Linked DNA regions of Homo sapiens: region 1 is linked to region 2. The links come from fine-mapping of genetic effects on gene expression. A gene starts in region 2. The other region holds a variant in brackets. All regions are shown on one strand. Distances are between the middles of the regions. Region 1 overlaps LMNB1 (lamin B1). Region 2 holds the start of LMNB1 (lamin B1).

What was found.
Region 1: its variant is fine-mapped to the expression of LMNB1 in whole blood (INTERVAL, PIP 0.99).

Annotation. Positions count from the first base shown.
Region 1 is chr5:126,805,421-126,816,632 of GRCh38, forward strand. It overlaps LMNB1 (lamin B1), which reads left to right. Exons shown (of 11, transcript NM_005573.4): 3 at 151-276; 4 at 4,760-4,930; 5 at 6,353-6,478. Among named protein-coding and RNA genes, the nearest start is that of LMNB1, 34 kb to the left of the region's middle. The variant A/G (reference allele first, on the strand shown) is at 6,250.
Region 2 is chr5:126,771,463-126,782,674 of GRCh38, forward strand. LMNB1 (lamin B1) reads left to right here and starts at 5,674. Exons shown (of 11, transcript NM_005573.4): 1 at 5,674-6,405. The coding sequence starts at 6,047. It overlaps LMNB1-DT (LMNB1 divergent transcript), which reads right to left and starts at 5,024. Exons shown (of 4, transcript NR_134485.1): 1 at 4,833-5,024. RefSeq lists silencers at 4,451-4,500, 5,151-5,800, 6,001-6,080, 6,391-6,440, 6,651-6,760 and enhancers at 5,435-6,235, 7,251-7,340, 8,644-8,713, 8,724-8,813.

The DNA.
Region 1 (11,212 bases), 34 kb after region 2:
TTCTGTGATAAATGTTAAGATGAAGTAATTATACATTGATAAATATATAGGAATTTTAACACTTGATTTGATTTGATTCATAGATATCTTATGTTCATTATTAAATGATTGCCATGTAATTTTTATCACAATTCTTTTTCCTTGTAATAGTTGGAAGCCTCCTTAGCTGCAGCCAAAAAACAGTTAGCAGATGAAACTTTACTTAAAGTAGATTTGGAGAATCGTTGTCAGAGCCTTACTGAGGACTTGGAGTTTCGCAAAAGCATGTATGAAGAGGTAACTATATATAATTTTGCTTTGTAAAGGAATGGAGGGGTTCTAGAATGACTTTGTCATAGCTAAACATGTAATTATATTTTATTTATGATTTCTTTGCCACAAAAATATATCAGATAAAGAAATAATAAGGTTTGGGGATGGGGAGAAATTTTGCAGGTAGATTATTCAAGCTACTGCTGCTAAAAGACCGCATTTGAGAACTCAAGCTGTTACCGTAAACAGATATGATTTCACTTCATCTTACTTATTTTTGTTTTTTTGTTTTTGTTTTTTTGAGACGGAGTCTTGCTCTGCCGCCAGGCTGGAGTACAGTGGCACGATCTCGGCTCCTTTCAACCTCTGCCTCCTGGGTTCAAGCAGTTCTCCTGCCTCAGCCTCCCGAGTAGCTGGAACTACAGGCGTGCGCCACCACGCCCAGCTAATTTTTGTATTCTTAGTAGAGACGGGATTTCACCATATTGGCCAGGGTGGTCTCGATCTCCTGACCTCGTGATCCGCCCACCTTGGCCTCCCAAAGTGCTGGGATTACAGGTGTGAGCCACCACATCCGGCCTCACTTCATCTTAACTTATAAAGGCTTGGTCACAGCAGCTAATTACTGTCAACATGTTTAAGCATTAGTTATCTATTCCTGCCTAACAAATTACTTCCAAAGTTCATCAACCTAAAACCACAGACTTGTATTAATTTCTTAGTTCCTGAAGGTCAGAATTCAGAGCTGCTAAACTGGGTGGTTCTGTTTCTTGGTCCCATGAGGTTGCAGTACAGCTTTTAACCTGGGCTGGAGGAATGGCATCTGAGCTCTTTCACAGGGCTGTGGGCAGGACGTGTCAGTTCCTCACCTCATGGTCTTCTTCATAGGGCTGCTCATGATATGGCCCCCCTAAGGGTCAGTGATGAGAAAGAGAGAGAGAGAGAGAAAGAAACACAACGAGAACATGAATACATGCTACCAGCTACCAAGGCAGAAGCCAGATTGTCTTCTATAACCTAATCACAGAGGTTACATACCATCACTTTGGCCTTCTCCTATGGCTCACATCTGGAAATGCGGCTACTCACAGCATTTATAGGCGTGTAAATTTTTTTTTTTTTGAGACACGAGACCCGCTCTGTCGCCCAGGCTGGAATGCAGTGGCATGATCTTGGCTCACTGCAACCTCTGCCTCCTGGGTTCAAGCTATTCTCCTGCCTTAGCCCCCCTAGTAGCTGGGACTACAGGCGCATGCACCCACGCCCTGCTAATTTTTTGTATTTTTAATAGAGACGAGGTTCCACCGTGTTAGCCAGGATGGTCTCAATCTCCTGACCTTGTGATTGGCCCGCCTCAGCCTCCCAAAGTGCTGGGATTACAGGCGTGAGCCACCGTGCCCGGCTCACTCATGTGGAAATCTTAAAATATCACTTATAAGCCTTAACTGCTGTGGTCAAGGGGCAGGGGCAAAACCGTTGTCAAACAAAGGAAGTAATAAAATTGAGGAAAGGGGAATGTATATTTCATGAAAATTGTAGAGGGTTGAAATCAACTCATGGGGGAGAACATGCTGTTAATGTGCTAGGCTTAATGTTTTTAGAAGTAGTGTAATTTTGAAAACAGTGCAAATAGGAATTCATTGTAGCAGTTAGCAAACCAGTTTTTTAGTTGGAGGAAAAATAATAGAAATCTGATTATTTTTTAAAATTACAGGCTTTAAACAAAATAGATATTAGTGCAAGGTGCACCAGACAAGCAGTCAGACCTTGGACAACTCTTAGTGTCAGTTTCTTATTTAAAATGAAATACTAATACTGCTATTTTTTTCTTCAATGAGTGGTAAGGATCAAAGTGGAATACTGTGTGTGAAAACTCTTTGGATACTGTAGCAAGTGCTGTCATATAATTGTTACTAAGTGTTGCTTTGTTAAAGCAGATATTTTGATATGAGGTTGACTTACATTTTTGTTTTGTTTTGTAAAAATTGTGATTTATCATTACTTATTTCTGATGTTGTGTGTAGACAACCAGGAGTAGGGTTTTTTTTCTTTGTAAGGTCACTGGTTCTATATAAAAAATAGCATCAGTAAAAAGTAATTTAATATTTTTAGAGTGCATAGCATCTTTGAATTTTTGGCCTTTGCCTTTTTGAGAATGGATGTTAAGATAGTCCTCTTCAGTTTTGTTTTTGTTTTTGTTTTTTTTAACTCTTTTTGGAGACAGAGTCCTGCTCTCTCGCCCAGGCTGGAGTGCAGTAGTACGATCTTGGCTCACTGCAACCTCCACCTCCTGGGTTCAAGCGATTCTTCTGCTTCAGCCTCTGGAGTAACTGGGTCTACAGGCATGTGCCACCATGCCCGGCTAAGTTTTGTATTTTTAGTAGAGACAGGGTTTCACCACATTGGCCAGGCTGGTCTCGAACTCCTGAACTCAAGTGCTCCATCTGCCTCGGCCTCCCAAAGTGCTGGGATTATAGTTGTGAGCCACCGCACCTGGCCTTTTTTACTTTAAAAAAAATTTTTTTGTGTGAGACAGAGTCTCACTCTGTTGCCCAGGCTGGTGTGCAGTGGTACGGTCTTGGCTCACTGCAACCTGTGCCTCCTGGATTCAAATGATTCTTGTGCCTCAGCCTCACGAGTAGCTGGGATTACAGGTTCACACCCTCACAACTGGCTAACTTTTTTTTTTTTTCCTTACTTTTTACTAAGTAATACCATGTTGGCCAGGCTGGTCTAAAACTCCTGGCCTCAGGTGAGCCACTCGCCTCAGCCTCCCAAAGTGCTGGGATTACAGGTGTGAGCCACTACGCTGGCCTTAACTTTTTTTTTTTACATTCATGATATATATTCAGTAATAATATCTAACTTCCTTATTATGAACAGTTGGGGGAAAAAAGGAAGGAGAAAGACGAAAGAGGAAGGAGGAGGTAGACAAAGAACAAACCATTAGCAGTCACTCTTCAGTATTTTTGTGATTTAGGTATTATTTGCTTCATGAAATAGATGTGATCTCTGGGAAGGTGATAGCAGAATCCTCCTGATTTTTCTGATTTTTCAGATTTTGTCAAGTGCATGCTCCTGTGTAGTAGTTAAGAGAAAGATGAAGAAATGCAAAGGAAAATACATGCGCTAATATACACAAACAGCAACTTTGGTGGGTTATACTTCCCTCTTGTGGCTTCTTCAGATATTACCATTCTAATTATTATTTTTTTTTTTTTGAGACGGAGTCCAGCTCAGCTGCCCAGGCTGGAATGCAGTGGTGCGATCTTGGCTCACTGCAACCACCGTCTCCCAGGTTCAAGTGATTCTCCCATCTCAGCCTCCTGAGTAGCTGGGATTACAGGCACCCTCCATCATGGCTGACTAATTTTTGTATTTTAGTAGAGACAGGGTTTTACCATATTGGCCAGGCTGGTCTTGAACTCCTCACCTCAGGTGATCTGATTGCCTTGGCCTCCCAAAGTGCTAGGATTACAGGCGTGAGCCACCGCGCCCAGCCTTCCATTCTAATTTTATTTAGACACTTCCTTAAAACAGAGTAAAGGAAAGGATCATGACAACTACTTCTATTCTTCAATGGTAAATTTTTCATAAATATTTGAGTTAGTCAACTAATATTGTTAATAAGATCCTGTGTCACTTGATAATGATAGCTTAATACCGGCTTTTAAAGAAGTCATGTAAATTAGCTTGTGCTGCCTATTATTATGTCTAAGAAAATGGTTTTATGGCTGGGCAAGGTGGTTCACACCTGTAATCCCAGCAACTTGAGTGGCTGAGGCAGATGGATCACCTGAGGTCAGGAGTTTGAGACCAGTCTGGCCAACATGGGGAAATCTCATCTCTACTAAAAATACAAAAATTAGCTGGGCATGGTGGTATGTGCCTGTAATCCCAGTTACTAGGGAGGCTGATGCAGGAGAATTGCTTGAACCCGGGAGGCGGAGGTTGTAGTGAGCTGAGATCATACCATTGCACAACAGCCTGGGCGACAGAGTGATACTCTATCTCAGAAAAGAAAAGAAAAGAAAAGAAAATAGTTTCATTTCACATAAATCTTTACATGAATTTATCACAACTGTTAAGTTTAACTTTCCATGTGCTGTTTTTTCAGAGATGTTCTTAAGATTATCAATGAAACAATTCAGAAAAATAATTTTTGCTTAGTGTTTAGTATAGTATACTGTGTATAAATCCTTGATTGCAGATAGTTTTAGTAGGCCATCCAGGCCTTTCCTTGGCTTCAGAAAAATAAATAGCTATGCTCCTGAAAAGGAATAGAAAGTTCCTAAGGCTTGAGATGCTACCACTTCTGTCATTAGTTCCATTTCAAAAACCTCAACTGAAAACTAAGAGGCAAAAAAGTGTTTATTCACATGACCGCCTGAGGACAAACAGGAGGAAGTTCGTGTGTAAAACTTCAGATGGCTGTGATGTCACTCAGATGTGTACCAATGCAGCCATGGTAAGTAGCTTGGCTTTATGCTTTTTGTTTTTTCCCCAGGAGATTAACGAGACCAGAAGGAAGCATGAAACGCGCTTGGTAGAGGTGGATTCTGGGCGTCAAATTGAGTATGAGTACAAGCTGGCGCAAGCCCTTCATGAGATGAGAGAGCAACATGATGCCCAAGTGAGGCTGTATAAGGAGGAGCTGGAGCAGACTTACCATGCCAAAGTGAGCTCTCTTCAGAAGATTCTTTTGAACACTTAAAATCATTACTTCACAATTCCCATGATGAACATGGCTTTATGTTTATTTTGTTCTAGTTTTTAAAAATGATTCCCCTAGTCTCCATGAAATATATAGAAAATTGATTTTTTCAAAAAAGTGCAGTTTTCTATAAACTAAATGTTATTAAAAATTACTAGAAGAATGTAGGGTTGTTGCAATTTTATTAGAGGTTAGGTTTTGTCTTTTTGTCCCATTGATCATTCGTACTATGCCATAGTAGTTGAACCCAAACCATGTGAAATAACTTTCTTCCAATAACAAGTACTGATCATGCTGTCCTACATAAACATCCATTTAGTAATGAATGAATGTCAGACTGCATTAGATCTCACTTTCATGTCATCATTGTGCATAGATTGTGACTACCACACTTCCGGCTTTTTTGCATAAGGGCCAAATGGAAAGTCTCTGCTATTTCTTCTTCTGTCACTATTATTCACTTAAAAAAATATTGTAGAAACTTCCCACTTATATTAGCTGACCTTACAAGAATTCATAAAAATCACCAACTAGTACAGGCTTTCCCTGGTAAATGATTTTGCCTTGTGTTTTAAATGTTACATGATTTGATTAAAAAGACTTTTTTGTGGTTGACTTAGAATATTAGAGTCACAGAGTTATTGAAAATTTTCATTGCATGGCTTTAAACTGTTCATGTTGCTTTTTATCTATTGTATGAAGTAGCAGTTAGTGAAAGTGAAAGATCTTATTATAAGCAGTAACTTCAGTTGTATAACATTTATCTAATATCACACATTGAGCTATACAGTGAAGGAGCTAAAGTAAGGATCCGTCACAGACTGTGGCCTCACAGGGAGCCAGGGAGGAGACACAGGAGCATGTCCCTGAGACACACATACACAATAGTGTTATGGGATTTGTATTTTACTCAAGGAGTTTTTTTTGCTTCTGAAAGGAAGTGTTTCTATCTGGTTTGAACGAATCTATAAACTAGTATTTTCTGCTTGTTGGTTTACATTCTGTATTGGATTTGGTGGGTTAGGGATATGTGATGTTTCTTTTCTTACAGACACCACCACAGTCAAGTTGCTATTGCCCAGTCTTCTTATTATCAGTGTTATCTTAGACATTAAAGGTTTAATAGATGAAATATTGAAGTAATAAGCTTTGGGTAAAGGCCTAGGTATATTAGCATTCTTAAAGCTCATTATTTAGGAAGTGACTCTAAAAGTCACACAGAATTACCATCATTCACACCATATCAGCAAACTTCATGATGCTTTTCCTGTGTTTCATCTACC[A/G]GTTACCAGCAGGACTTAGGTTTGAAATGCCTTGAGGTGAATCATGCTTCCTTTTTTGTTTCAGTTCTAGATAAGACTGACTATGCTTTGCTTCTTCTTTTAGCTTGAGAATGCCAGACTGTCATCAGAGATGAATACTTCTACTGTCAACAGTGCCAGGGAAGAACTGATGGAAAGCCGCATGAGAATTGAGAGCCTTTCATCCCAGCTTTCTAATCTACAGAAAGAGGTAAATAATCATCTTTCTGTAAGAAGTTAGACTTGAAGGCTACCTTCACCACGGGCACCTACCTGCTTTGCTTGGGCTGATGTCACTCCTCCCTCTGTTTGTTACAGAGGATGGTGTCATCCTGTGCTTTCGTCTTCACAGTACTTTTCTAGATTCGTTCATTTTGCATTGCATAAACATCCTGTGAGCAGATACTATTGTTCCTAATTAGTAGATTACACAGAGCTAAGGGACTTGCCCTTGAGGAAGGAGCCTGCTAGTTTATTCACTGTACTTACCCTAGGACCCGGATCTTCCGACCTGTCTAACAGCTTCATCTCTACAGAGTTATTCTCAACACCTTCCTTTTTTATATCATTTGAAAACCAAAATGAAGAAAAACATGCAAAAATTCTTTGTGGGTGGTGAATGCTTTGTGTTTCTAGACAAATTCTTTAGTGCTTAAAGTATATAACAATTAGGATCCAGGAAAGTAGCTTTAATTTGCATATTCCGATAAGAATTTAGTGACTCATTCATTCGTTGGTACGCCTAAGTGACAAATGGCATTATTGCCGGCTGTGTTGACTGGCTGCCTATCAGGGTGTGATGGTGTGCTTCAGGTGCTGCTTAAGCAGGCATGGACACTACTTCAGATCAGTTTTAGCCTAGGGTGATGTCAGTGTGGACACAAAGTACATATACTCCATATACTGCATTCAGAATGATTCAGCAATTAACTCGTCACCTTAATTATTTTGGAAATAACTTCCGCTTCTATTTTCCTCAAGGGAGGAAATCTTGTTTTGAATTTTCCACATGAGAATAAACTTTATTTTACTTTTTTTTTTTTTTTTTTTTTTTTCTTTTTGAGATGGAGTCTCACTCTGTCGCCCAGGCTGGAGTGCAGTGGTACGATCTCGGCTCACTGTGAGCTCCGCCTCCCGGGTTCACGCCATTCTCCTGCCTCAGCCTCCCAAGTAGCTGGGACTACAAGTGCGTGCCACCACGCCCGGCTAATTTTTGTATTTTTAGTAGAGACGGGGTTTCACCGTGTTAGCCAGGATGGTCTCGATCTCCTGACCTCATGATCCACCCGCCTCGGCTTCCCAGAGTGCTGGGATTACAGGCGTGAGCCACCGTGCCCAGCCTATTTTACTCTTGATTGGGCTTTTCTTCCTTCCTTTTTCTTTTTACCATTTTTAGTAAAATATTTTTCTAATTATAAAACTGATGACCTCTGTTGCAGGAACTTAGAAATAAAGCAGAAAATGAGTCCCATAAAATGGGGTGATATAAAATAATTTAGTTAACACAGGGGCTTTTACACTGTCTATCATGTGCTTTGTTACTTACGGCACAAATTTTTAAATTATTTTAAACCTATTTTGTGCTGATAGTGTTTTGAAGATTTTCATTTAATAGCAGAGCTGGAAGCACCTCTGAGTTCATTCCATGTAACCACAGATCTAGGTGAGTTTAATGATTTGCCCGTTGCCCAGAGGCTGCAGACTGATAAATGGGTTTCTCTACTCCTTCCCAGTTTTTCCTTTTATAACTCATTTTCTTCAAAGAAGATTTACTTTTAGAAATTTAACAGATAATCTTTTTTTCCATTGCACCATCTGTCTTAGTCCTTTTGGGCTGCTATAACAAACTACTATTGACTTGGTAGCTTATAAACAACAGATATGTCAGAAATTATTTCTCACAGTTTTGGAGGCTGGGAAGTCCAAGATCAAGGCACTGGCAGATTGGATATCTGCCTGGTGAGGGCTGTTCCCCGATTTATAGATGGTGCCTTCTTGCTGTGTCCTCACATGGTTAAAGGGTGAATGAGCACCCTTGGCCCTATATTATAAGGGCATGAATCCCATTCACTAGGGCTTTCCTCTCATGATCTAATTACCACTCAAAGGCCCTACCTCTTAATATCATCACCTTGAGGGTTAGGATTTAAACATGAAATTTGTGGGAACACAAACACACAGACTGTATCACTGTCTTTGTTTTTCTTGTTGTTTTTTTTTCTTCTGAGACAGAATTTCGTTCTTGTTGCCCAGGCTGTAGTGCAATGGCGCAATCTCGGCTCACTGCAACCTCCGCCTCCCAGGTTTAAGCAATTCCCCTGCCTTAGCTTCCCTAGTAGCTGGGATTACCGGCATGCACCACCACACCCTGCTAATTTTGTATTTTTGGTAGAGACAGGGTTTCTCCATGTTGGTCAGGCCGGTCTTGAACTCCTGACCTTAGGTGATCCGCCCGCCTCAGCCTCCCAAAGTGTTGGGATTATAGGCGTGAGCCACTGCACCTGGCCTATATCAACTGTCTTAACAGGTACTTTTCCAAAAATGGGCCTCTCTGTTCTTGTACTGAGTTGGCATTTACTACTCTTTTCCATTTACTAATAGTAAGTTGTCTACTAGTTACTGTCTATCCCTCAATTTTATTTTTTCCTACTGTATTATTATTTTTTTGGCTGCTGCCTAATCCATTTGATTTACTTAGTACAGATCTTCTCTTGAGGTTGATCTTCACTGTGCTTTGGATGAGGAGACTGTTATTAATAAGTAGTAGTGGGCTCTGAAACTTAGTAGCTATGTGTTCTAACCTAGGTTCAAGGCTGTTTCCCTGTTAATTGAATTCCCATTTTTGCAAGTTGGTTTTTTTTTTTTTTTGAGACAGAATTTTGCTTTTGTTGCCCAAGCTGGAGTGCAATGGCACTATCTCAGCTCACTGCAACTTCTGCTTCCCAGGTTCAAGTGATTCTCCTGCCTCAGCCTCCTGAGTAGCTGGGATTACAGGCACGCGCTACCACGCCCAGCTAATTCTTTGTATTTTTAGTAGAAATGGGGTGCACCATGTTAGCCAGGTTGGTTTCAAACTCCTGACTTCAGGTACTCTGCCTACCTTGGCCTCCCAAAATGGAAGGGATTACAGGCGTGAGCTGCTGCCTTAAATGCTGGGATTACAGGTGTAAGCCACTGTGCCTGGCTGCAAGTTTTTTTTGTTAACCTTATCTTAGTGGTTTTTAAGTAATGTTAGGCAGTGCACTGGGGGTTTCCAGGAGCTAACTCCTTAGCAGATAGGAGACGAGCAATCCCTTTAGCCAAAATAGTTTTTAATTTCTCTGGGGTGAATCTTTCCTCTGTTCATTATTGGTAACAGACTTTATGGTAAACAGTATATTTTGAGGAATATTTTTATTAGTTGATAAATTTTAGCCTTAGAAAAATCATCAAAAATAAAAATGTTATCTTTTTGAATATTTTCCTATTGTTTGTCTTAATAGTGTTTGTTGCTGAGTCATATCAGTTTCATCATGCTGCCTATTAGGCCATAAGAATTTCCTTTTGGTTAAATAACTCAGGTTAGTGAAGTACTTCTTAAATTTTACTTAAAATTGACATGGCTTTAAAATACTGGTTTTACAAGATATATTTAAATAATATATAGATGGTAGCAGTGTTATGTTTTGGAATTAGAAATTTTACATTGCTTATAGCATCTCTAGATTTTTGACTTGGGACCAAATGAATTGGTTGGTTAGAGTCTGCTTGCCTTAGAGAAGAGTACAGTATGGTACTTAAAAACACCTCTAACTTTTGTTTTTCTAACACCCAGATTCTGGAGACTTTGGTTGCAGCTAGACCTTAATAAACCAGTACAATTACATTACATACTATAAAATATTTAAAAACCCCAAGATCATCAGAAGTCATAAAATTTAGGGTTAGTGGCAAGATCTGAGAGATCATCTAGATAGTTAGAGCTCTTCATTTTCCTTATGTGGAAACTGGTTTAGTGAGATTAGTTACAGCTTGCTTATAGCCTCATAGGTAGTTTCAATGGCAGAATTAGAAAGGAGAATCTAGGTCTAACTTCTCATACTGTGTTCCTTATATTTCACTACACAGGTGTAAGTGCAGCTACTGAAAATAGAATTTAAATATTTCTATTTAAAATACAGAATGATTCAGAGTAACTTTAAAATTTTTATACCTAGATTTTGATTTTTCCCTCTTAAAGAGCTCTACAACATCAAAGGCAGTCAAACAGAGACATCATTGGGTTTATAAATCTCGGCTCAGGTTATCTGTGAATCTTGGGTAGTTTATATCTCTCATCAACTCTCCTTTAGATTCTACCTTTTTGCCCATTCAAATATATCTTCTACCTCTGATATATGAAATAAAGGGAGGCATTTTGAACTTACATGACTTTTTTTTTTTCTTTTGGAGAAAAAGAAAATACAAGGAACATGGTAGCGGGGAAATGGATTTCTCCATTTATAGCATGATTTTTGCAAACGCAGTTAAATGCAAGTTCTCTGAGGTTCAGGGACTACCTTTGTAATATCCATCTTAAGAGGAGTGCCTGTCTAAATAGCATGTCAAGTCATATACTACTCTGGAATTTAATTAATTGATTGGTCAATTTTTTTTCTTTAAAAATATATTTTTGTGTGTGCGTGTGAACCAGGCACCCCCTCTGCCCCCAAATAGGTTTACAGTGACTCTTGATTATTTTTTAAATAACCTTGTTATTTTGGCATAATTTTAGATTTACAGAAAAGTTGGCAAAGTACTATAGACAGTTCTTGTTTTCCTCTCACCCATTTTCCCCTGTTGTTAGCATCTTATGTTACCATAGTATATTTGTCAAAACTAAGAAACTGACATTGGTATATTACTGTGAACTCGTCTCCAGACTATTTGGATTTCACCAGTTCTTCTGTTATCTTCTTTCTGTTCC
Region 2 (11,212 bases):
ATTTGTTTGCAATGTATACTCAATTTATCTGCCAGCTGTCACTCCCCTCTCCCAAGACAAAAGTGGGTTACTGCTAAGCTTTCAGTCTCTCCTCCCCATTCCTTCTCACCCCATCCTAGTATGGCCCCTTCTCCCCAGATGTCTTATGTATCATATATTTTTCTGTCCCAGATCCAAATGACATACATAAAGTAGGACAAATGTCAATTAAGTTCTTTACATGTAGTGAGGTAGTTGTAGGAGGAGTATGGACAAGGGAAAATGATGGCATGGCATTTTGAGACTTGGTGGGGATATATATGGTCTAACCAATAATCAGGACATGTGCCCTGACAAGTAAATGGAGGTGTATAGTAAAAACAAAGGCAGGATATTTGAAATCACCACTATCCTAGTAAATGCAGAAGTGTTGTCACCAAATTTACAAATTTGTTACTTCTAATTCATTGGGGAAAACTTTGGAGGGATAAGATTTCAGGAATTACTTGAATAAAGGGAGCTTGACTAACTTAGTATGAGAGAACAGAAGGCCATAATCCAGGTTTAGCATTAGGTATGGGAAACACCTAGAGAATAAGGAAAGTGTATATTTTGTAAAGTAGCTGACCAAAAATGTGCACAATTGTCTAATTCTTGTGTGTGTGTGTTTTGTTTTTGTTTTTTTTTTTGCTACGGAGTTTCACTCTTGTTGCCCAGGCTGGAATACAATGGCACTATCTCGGCCCACTGCAACCTCTGCCTCCCAGGATCAAACGATTCTCCTGCCTCAGCCTCCCGAGTAGCTGCGATTACAGGTGCCCACCACCATGCCTGGCTAATTTTTTGTATTTTTAGTAGAGATGGAGTTTCACTGTGTTGGCCAGGTTGGTCTCAAACTCCTGGCCTCAAGTGATCCACCCACCTTGTCCTCCCAAAGTGCTGGGATTACAAGGGTGAGCCACTATGCCCGGCCACAATTACCTAATTCTAAGGCTTCAAGATTTTCCATTCTTTTTCCTTGATTTTCAATGGAAACACATGATTACTATTAGTAAGCGTTACTATTTAGCCTTCACATGTTGTATGTCTAACACACTGCATATATTGTTTTATTAAATCTTTACAAATCCTGTGCAAGGTAAAAACCATTCCCATTTTCTTTTCTTTCTTTCTTTCTTTTTTTTTTTTTTTTTTTATGAGACGAGTTTCGCTCTTGTTGCCCAGCCTGGAGTGCAATGGCACGATCTTGGCTCACTGCAACCTCCACCTCCCAGGTTTAAGCGATTCTTCTGCCTCAGCCTCCTGAGTAGCTGGGATTACAGGCATGTGCCACCACGCCCGGCTAATTTTATATTTTTAGTAGAGATGGGGTTTCTCCATATTGGTCAGACTGGTCTCGAACTCCCGACCTCAGGTGATCTGCCCACCTCGGCCTCCCAAGGTGCTGGGATTACAGGCGTGAGCCACCGCGTCCGGCCCCCATTTTCTTTTTCTTTCTTCTCTTTTTTTGAGACGCAGTTTTGCTCTTGTTGCCCAGGCTAGAGTGCAATGGTGCCATCTCAGCTCACCATAACCTCTGCCTCCCAGGTTCAAGCGATTCTCCTGCCTCAGCCTCCCAAGTAGCTGGGATTACAGGCATGCGCCACCACGCCCAGCTAATTTTGTATTTTTAGTAGAGACGGGGTTTCTCCATGTTGGTCAGGCTGGTCTCGAACTCCCGACCTCAGGTGATCCACCTGCCTTAGCCTCCCAAAGTGCTGGGATTACAGGCATGAGCCACCGAGCCCGGCATGTGTTTTTTTGTTTTGTTTTGTTTTTGAGACGGAGTCTCGCTGTGTCGCCAGGCTGGAGTGCAGTGACGCGATCTCGGCTCACTGCAACCTCTGTCTCCTGGGTTCAAGAGATTCTCCTGCCTCAGCCTCCTGAGTAGCTGGGACTACAGGCGCGCACCACCATGCCCAGTTAACTTTTTTGTATGTTTAGTAGAGACGGGGTTTCGCCGTGTTGGCCAGGATGGTCTCGATCTCTTCACCTCGTCATCCGCCCGCCTCAGCCTCCCAAAGTGCTGAGATTACAGGCGTGAGCCACTGTGCCCGGCTCCATTTCCATTTTCCTTGAAGGAAATCACGGAATAATTTTCTTAAAGTTATACAGCTATCAGTAGCACATCCTCAATTGTCTGACTCCAAGAAAGTTGTTTTATATAATAGGATATGTATAATGTGAGCCTCTTCAAATAATCTGAAAATTGAGGAACTCTATCAATAGAAAGCTTCAGGCCGGGCGTGGTGGCTCACGCCTACGATCCCAGCATTTTGGGAGGCTGAGGCTGGTGGATCACGAGGTCAGGAGTTGGAGACCAGCCCGACCAACATGATGAAACCTCGTCTCTACTAAAAATACAAAATTAGCCCGGTGTGGTGGCGCAGGCCTGTAATCCCAGCTACTCGGGAGGCTGAGGTAGGAGAATCGCTTGAACCCTCCAGGAGGTAGGAGATGGAGGTTGTGGTGAGCTGACATCGCGCCACTGCACTCCAGCTTGGGCAAGAAGAACGAAACTCTGTCTCAAAAAAAAAACAAAAACAAAAACAAAAAACAAAGCTTCATGGGGTTGAGAGCAATAGAGATCATTGCTGGAATCACATATAATCTTAAAACTTAAAAAATGGACAGGAAATAATTTTAAAAGAAAACTGACAATTTTTTTTTTTTTTTTTTGAGACGGAGTCTCGCTCTGTCGCCAGGCTGGAGTGCAGTGGCGCGATCTCGGCTCACGACAACCTCCGCTTCCCGGGTTCAAGCCATTCGCCTGCCTCAGCCTCTCGAGTAGCTGGGACTACAGGCACGTGCCACCACGCCCAGCTATTTTTTTTTTTTTTTTTTTTTGTAGTTTTAGTAGAGACGGGGTTTCACTATGTTGGCCAGGATGGTCTCCATCTCTTGACCTCGTGATCCGCCCGCCTCGGCCTCCCAACCAAGTATTTTTAAAAGACAGGTAAAGGGGAGCAAGGAATGAAAACCATAAAACCATATGGATTGACTATATCACCTGTCGTAGTGGAAAGGGTCTCACAACCAAGTGAGAACAAGCAGATTTACATTCCAATCCTGGTTCCACAGCCTGGGACCCAGCACTCACCTTCTTTTGGTCTAATTTCCTCATCGGTAATTTATTTTATTTAACTTTAAAAAATTTTTTTTATTTTTTTGCAGATAGGGTCTTGCTTTGACGCCTAGGCAGTGTCGCAATCTCAGCTCACTGCAACCTCTGCCTCTGAGGTTCAAGCGATTCTCCTGCCTCCTGCCTCAGCCTCCGGAGTAGCTGGGACTACAGGCGCGCGCCACCACACCCCGCTAATTTTTGTATTTTCAGTAGAGGCGGGGTTTCACTATGTTGACAGGCTGGTCTGGAACTCCCGACCTCAAGTGATCTGCCCACCTCGGCCTCCCAAAGTGCTGGGATTACAGGCTGAGCCACCACACCCGGCCGGTTTTCTCATCAGTAATTTAGATTTTAAAGTTCCCTTTAAGATTACTTGAATACTTAAAGTCTAAGCTTTTCGATTCTTTATTTCTCAATGAGGTTAAGAAAGGAAGTATTTCATGGCCAGGCGCGGTGGCTCACGCCTGTAATTCTAGCACTTTGGGAGGCCGAGGCGGGCGGATTGCCTGAGATCAGGAGTTCGAGGCCAGCCTGGGCAACACGGTGAAGCCCAGTCTCTACTAAAATACAAAAAATTAGCCGGGTATGGTGGCGTTGGTCCCAGCTACTCAGGAGGCTGAGGCAGGAGAATCGCTTGAACCCGGGAGGTGGAAGTTGCAGTGAGCTGAGATTGTGCCATTGCACTCCAGCCTGGGCGACAGAGCAAGACTCCGTCTCCCTGCCATCCTCCCCCCCACCCCCCCACCCCCCAAAAAGCAAGGAAGTATTTTAGGAAACCGGACAGGAAATAGAACCATTAATAAGGAGAATGTCATCATTCACAGAGTGCCAAAAATTCATCTGGGATGAATATGCAGCTCCCAGTGCTCTTCACTAATTCTTATGTACATGACTTGATTAACAGTTAAAGAATATCCTGGTCTCCATTTCTGCCATTTTAAAAGTAAGTAACCATTAATTACAGAAGCGTTCCTAATAGGTGGTAAGGTGGTCATCTAGGGTATAGCTAAGGGCCAGACTCGAGTCAATTAGAATCCTGGGACCTGTCAAACGCAGTCCTGCGGAGCAGCCTTCAGACAGTGAATCTATAAAATGGATGGTTTCTTTCTTTCTTTTTTGAGACGGGGTCTCCCTGTCACCCAGGCTGGAGTGTAATGGTGCCATCTCGGCTCACTGCAACTTCCCCTTTCCGGGTTCAAGGGATTCTCCCACCTCAGCCTTCCAAGTAGCTGAGATTACAGGCACCCGCCATCATGCCCGGCTAATTTTTGTATTTTTGTAGAGACGGGGTTTCACCATGTTGGTCAGGCTGGTCTTGAACTCCTGAGCTCAGGTGATCCTCCCCCACTCGGCCTCCCAAAGTGTTGGGATTATAGGCGTGAGCCACCGCGCCCGCCCGGATGAATTTTCAAATAGAAACAATCCAGTTTCCCACATCACACGGAGATTGTGTGGATGGGTAATCCATGAAAAGCCTGGTGCTGGCACTCAGTCCCAATAAATGTTAGCTAAAAATTAGGAACTTTTCAAAGGGATGAATGTGCTTTCTAATAGAAGTAGCTGCCAGTGACATCTTGGGAGCCTCTTTTTAAAAGCAAAAAATTATTTCATCTTAAATTTTCACAAGTTCAGATTTTTATGTACCTGATTTTAACGGAGTATGAAACAGCTTGCTCTCGTAGTTACTCACCGTCATATGTTAATCGTATCATTTCTGAGCTGTTTTTTGATTTTACAAACCCTTAAATTAAGAAACGGATTAGGAACCGCCCATTAACACTGTTGGCAAATGATTTAAAATCAGGGTTGCTGGTTTTTCTGTGATAATCTATCGGCTTCAAGACGCACAGATCTCACTTTCATGGAAAGAAGTTGCCTGATACAGTTTTCCACCGGAGAGAAAAATAAAGGCTGGTACTTGGAACCTGCAAGCCGTGCATTTGGAACCTCGGACTCAAGTGCCTATTACGTAATTCCACAGCGTCCCGGCCTCCAGGCCGTTTCCCGAGCCCTCCAGCGGAGCGGGGGATAAGGTTACCACGCCCGCGGTGGCCGGGGACACTCTGAGTTTCGCGTGTGGCTTTTAGGGACGTTTATATTTGAATTTCCCTGAACCGCCGAGTGTGGGCGGTGGCGCAGATCCGTCCCGGAAACCTCCGGGCTCCTTCCCGCCTTTCTCAGGCCCGGCCCCTCCAAGGGGTCCCCGCGGGGCGGCGGGAGGGCCCTGGGCCCAGAGCCGCGCGGGTGGGCAGTCCCAGGCGTCCTTCCTTACAGCCCTGAGCCTGGTCCGGGAACCGCCCAGCCGGGAGGGCCGAGCTGACGGTTGCCCAAGGGCCAGATTTTAAATTTACAGGCCCGGCCCCCGAACCGCCGAAGCGCGCTGCCTGCTCCCCATTGGCCCATGGTAGTCACGTGGAGGCGCCGGGGCGTGCCGGCCATGTTGGGGAGTGCGGCGCCGCGGCCCGCGCCACCTCCGCCCCCCGCGGCTTGCCTCCAGCCCGCCCCTCCCGGCCCTCCTCCCCCCGCCCGCCGCTCCGTGCAGCCTGAGAGGAAACAAAGTGCTGCGAGCAGGAGACGGCGGCGGCGCGAACCCTGCTGGGCCTCCAGTCACCCTCGTCTTGCATTTTCCCGCGTGCGTGTGTGAGTGGGTGTGTGTGTTTTCTTACAAAGGGTATTTCGCGATCGATCGATTGATTCGTAGTTCCCCCCCGCGCGCCTTTGCCCTTTGTGCTGTAATCGAGCTCCCGCCATCCCAGGTGCTTCTCCGTTCCTCTAAACGCCAGCGTCTGGACGTGAGCGCAGGTCGCCGGTTTGTGCCTTCGGTCCCCGCTTCGCCCCCTGCCGTCCCCTCCTTATCACGGTCCCGCTCGCGGCCTCGCCGCCCCGCTGTCTCCGCCGCCCGCCATGGCGACTGCGACCCCCGTGCCGCCGCGGATGGGCAGCCGCGCTGGCGGCCCCACCACGCCGCTGAGCCCCACGCGCCTGTCGCGGCTCCAGGAGAAGGAGGAGCTGCGCGAGCTCAATGACCGGCTGGCGGTGTACATCGACAAGGTGCGCAGCCTGGAGACGGAGAACAGCGCGCTGCAGCTGCAGGTGACGGAGCGCGAGGAGGTGCGCGGCCGTGAGCTCACCGGCCTCAAGGCGCTCTACGAGACCGAGCTGGCCGACGCGCGACGCGCGCTCGACGACACGGCCCGCGAGCGCGCCAAGCTGCAGATCGAGCTGGGCAAGTGCAAGGCGGAACACGACCAGCTGCTCCTCAAGTGAGTGCTAGCTGGCGGCCGCGTTAGCGCCAAGGAGGGGCGGGGGCGCAACCGCGGCGACCAGCTCACCGGGTTCTGCCGTGGGGAGGGAGCAGAGGCCAGGATGCACGCGTCCTTCTGAAGGAACAGGGTCTCGGTCTCCGGAAAGGAGAAAGAATCTAGAGTTCATAGCGGAGCAGGGGTCGCGGAGGGGGCTCGAGCTGTAGCGCTGGGGGGCCGTGATGCCCATTTCTAGATTTTGGATACCCGCTGGGACGTGGTAAGTGCGCGCCTGGGACTGCCGAGAAGGAGCTCCCGCTTTCGCACTCGAATCCGGGGAGCCGGCGCGGAGAGGCGGCCCCTCAGGCCCCAGGTGCGGGGAGCTGGAGCGCGAGCGCGCGCTCGCGTGCGCGCCCCAGTTTCCGGCCGGCGCGAGACAAAGCGTCTAGCGGATTTGCAGTGCCGGGATGGGCGGCCGGGGAGGACTGGCAGCCCGCCTCTAGAATGAATGAGCTTCGCGCGGGCAGAGAGAGGAAGGGGAGGGACCTTCCCGCAGCATCCGCGTCTCCTGGGGGTGGGTCCCGCTTTGGCGCGCTCAGTCTTGGCCCTGTGACGTTTTGCGAAGATTCTACGCCTGCTTTAGGCGGGAGAGAGAGGCGGAGCTTGATCCGTGCGCCTCCAGCCAGCCCCGGGCAAGTTAGGTTTGCTAGCTGGTTAGCTTTCTCTGGGGAAATGTGTCCTGTCCCAGCGGGGATGGTGCGGTCCCTCGGGTGGTTCTGCGCAGGGAAGGAAAGCTGGGTTTGTGCATGTCACGGCTACCGTTCTTAGAATTGCGGTTCTCCTACCCCTCAGGCAGCGGCCCTCTGTCCCCAGCTTTTGCCTCCTCGTAGTATAGTCAGGCTTTCGGGTAGAGACTGTGCTTAGTACCCCTTAGTCGACCACTGTGCAGATAGTAGACCAGGGCAGGTGACAGGGTGCTGTGTAAATGCTGAGTGTTTGAGCGAAGGAGAGTTTGTAATTCACCTAAGCGAGTGCGAGTTTTCATTCCAGTGCACAAGGATACATTTGCAGACCTTTGCTGGCCTTATTTTGACTTTCTGATAAGCAAAATGGCCTGTCATCAGTAGGCAACAAGTGTTGATGTCATGCTTTAGAGATTTGCAAAATTTGGGTCTGAAATTCATGGTCGCCATTAGCACTGCCAGCTGAAATTTCTGGAGGTACCTTATTCTCACTTTGACACCCTTTGCCCCTGGATGTCTTTCTGTCTGTATCTGCGTGAATGTCCCTGTCCGAAGTCTCTGAGATTTTGTGTATTTTTACTTATCCCTCCTATCATATGTTTTCGGTTCATAAAAAAGCATGTGCACGTGGTAAGAATAAAATAGTATAGACTGGTTTGTAGCGAAAAACGATAACTGCACTACCTCTTTCCGGAGGCAATCACATTTATCCCTTTTTGTTTTTATTTCTTTGGATATTTAGTTATACAACTCGAAAATAATACTAAGCTTGTATTTCCCTTTCTTGGATTTACTAAGCCTTGGTTTCATCTTTTAAAATGAGCAGTCAGTTAACTCACACTATTATTTCTATGTTCCTCCAAATTTTTTGCCACTGAATTCCTTCAAATCTTAGATATCGTTGCTTGTAAGACTTGCCATTATTATGTGTACCACTAAGAAAATAAAAACATCAGGACCAACTGTGTAGGATCCATCCTGTTGGACCCATCATGATGGGTTTCATAGATATTAAAATGTCAAACAGGGCCGGGCGTGGTGGCTCACGCCTGTAATCCCAGCGCTTTGGGAGGCGAGGTGAGCGGATCACTTGAGGTCAGGAGTTCGAGACCAGCCTGACCAATATGGTGAAACCCCGTCTCTACTAAAAATACAAAAATTGGCCGGACGCGGGGGCTCACGCCTGTAATCCCAGCACTTTGGGAGGCCGAGGCGGGCGGATCACGAGGTCAGGAGATCGAGGCCATCCTGGCTAACAAGGTGAAACCCCGTCTCTACTAAAAATACAAAAAATTATCCAGACGTGGTGGCATGCATCTGTAGTCTCAGCTACTTGGGAGGCTGAGGCAGGAGAATCGCTTGAACCCAGGAGGCGGATATTGCAGTGAGCTGAGATTGCGCCATTGCACCCCAGCCTGGCGACAGAGTGAGACCCCATCTCAAAAAAGAAAAAAAATCCGGGCGTGGTGGCGGGCGTCTGTAATCCCAGCTACTGGGGAGGCTGAGGCAGGAGAATCGCTTGATATCCAGGAGGCAGAGGCTGCAGTGAGCCAGATGGTCCACTGCACTCCAGCCTGGGTGACAGAGTGAGACTCCGTCTAAAAAAAAAAATTAACACAGATCAAATATCTGTTGCGTACCAGTCACCGTTCTATGTTAGAGGATATGAAGATTTTTTTAAAAAAATGAATTACTGTTCTTTGTTGCTGAGAGTGTAGTGGGGGAGCTATATCCCAGCAAGTAAAGAAAGATTGTCTTTTGTCTGATGTGAAGCATTTTGATGCTGGCGCTTTTGTAATCTTTCCAGGAGTTAGCCACAGGAGGTTTTTCACACAGTAACAAGGCTGCCACCTGGCTGACAGTAGTTGTAAATGTATCGATTCTAAAATGCATGCTGGTTTCAGCGGGGTTAAAAAATGAGAATAATGTGTATTAGAATCAATGAAATAATGCATGTGATACAATTTAGGTAATAGCAGATGCTAAGGGAATAAAAATAAAGCGGAGTGAAGGGTTAGTGTGATTAAGGAAGGCCTGTCTGAGGAGTTGACAGTACCTATTCTCTGAGGGTTAGTAGTGTTCTGGGATTATATTTTTCTTAAGTCTGTGCTACTGTATGTATATTCCTATTGCCAGGATTAGATGACTCTTCTTTTCCCCCCAACATACCATCATTTGCTCAAAACATGCCACATTTTAGTTTGCTCCTTATTTGAATTAGGACTTTTTTTATATGGATTTATTCCTCAATAGCTTTTCATTTTTCTTGTTAAGAAAAATTTGCCCTCAGTGTGTTTGCAGACTTTTTGAAGATATTTAATCATAATATCTATCACATGAATCTGCTTTCTTCCCTAGAGTTCTCTTTGCTTAAGGTAGGCTGTGTACTGATGTCCTGTAACTTATTAAAGACAGCTTCCTGGCCAGGCACGGTGGCTCACACCTGTAAAGCACTTTGAGAGGCCTAGGCAGGTGGATCACCTGAAGTCAGGAGTTCAAGACTAGCCTGTCCAACATGGCGAGACCCCGTCTCTACTAAAAATACACAAATTAGCCGCGTGTGGTAGTGGACGCCTGCAATCCCAGTTACTGTGGAGGCTGAGGCAGGAGGCATTGCTTGAACCGGGGAGGCGGAGGTTGCAGTGAGCTGAGATCACACCACCGCACTCCATCCTGGGTGTATTTTCCTTTTCCTTGGTTTCTTCATATTTTGTTGAAGAACATCCTTAAGTAATTTATTCAGAAAGGATGGCAGGAGGTAAACTTTCTGAGTCCTGTATGTCTGAAAATAGCTTTGGGCTAGGTATAGAATACTAGGTTAACATTTTTCCAGAACTTGGAAAGTATTATTTTGCCCTATTGTCTTCTGGCATCTAGGGTTGTTAATGTCTTTCTTTTTTTTTTGAGACGGAGCTTGGCTCACTGCAACCTCCGCCTCCCAGGTTCAAGCGATGCTCTTGACCCAGCCTCCCAAGTAGCTGGGATTACAGGTGTGCACCACCACACCCGGCTAATTTTGTATTTTTAGTAGAGACGGGGTTTCACCGTGTTGGCCAGGCTGGTCTCCAACTCCTGACCTCAGGTGATCCACCCACCTCGGCCTCCCAAGGTGCTGGGATTATAGGCGTGAGCCACCATGCCTGGCCTATATTTAATTTTTTATTTGGAACTAGAGTGTTTGTAATTAAGTATAATCATCATTTAGGTAGATTTAGATTAAGAAAACAGCTTTGAGAGAATTATAGATTCCAGGTTACTTAGTTTCTTTTTGGTTCCTCAGCAAACAAGATACCTTAGAGGCAGAGCATGGAAATGCTTGGTCTAAAGAGAATTTGGCAACAGTTTCCATGCAGGTGGTGTCTGAATCCATAGAAAACAGACCTCATATGTAAGGTACAGTTACTTTGATTCAGTCCAAGACTGATTATATTTTGCTGAAAGCTTTTTTGAGAGAACAGTTTCCAAAAATGATGATGAATGCCATCACTCAACACTTTAAACAAAAAGTACAGAGAAATTGACTTGTTTCAGATTTTCACTGTTAACTATACGGGAAAACTAGATATAACAGAAAGTTAAGTGTTTACATCAGTCTTCAATAACTGATTTTGTGGATTCAGACATTTATTTTCCTTCAGTGATACAGGTCCCGTATCTTTTCTGTAAAACCCTGGGGGCCAGATGTGCTTTGGAAGTTAAAGCAATTCCAATTTAAGACGGTAATATGATGCACATACTGGATATGACACCCCCAGTGGGGTTTATAGATAGAGTTAGGGTAGATAGAGTTAGCACTCTATCATGAAACATTTCTGAGGGAAAGATATTGTCATGGCAAGTGGAGAAAGACAGATTGAAAATAGACCTGGTTTCAGGTCAGGTTTTGCCACTAAATGTGTTAATAAAAATTTTAGGTTTTCAAACTCTGGAAGTATAGATAAAAGATGGTGAATTTTTGTTTTTATTTATTTATTTTTTGACACAGAGTCTCGCTCTTTTGCCCAGGCTGGAGTGCAGTGACACAATCTCAGCTCACTGCAACCTCTGCCTCCTGGGTTCAAGCAATTCTTCTGCCTCAGCCTCCC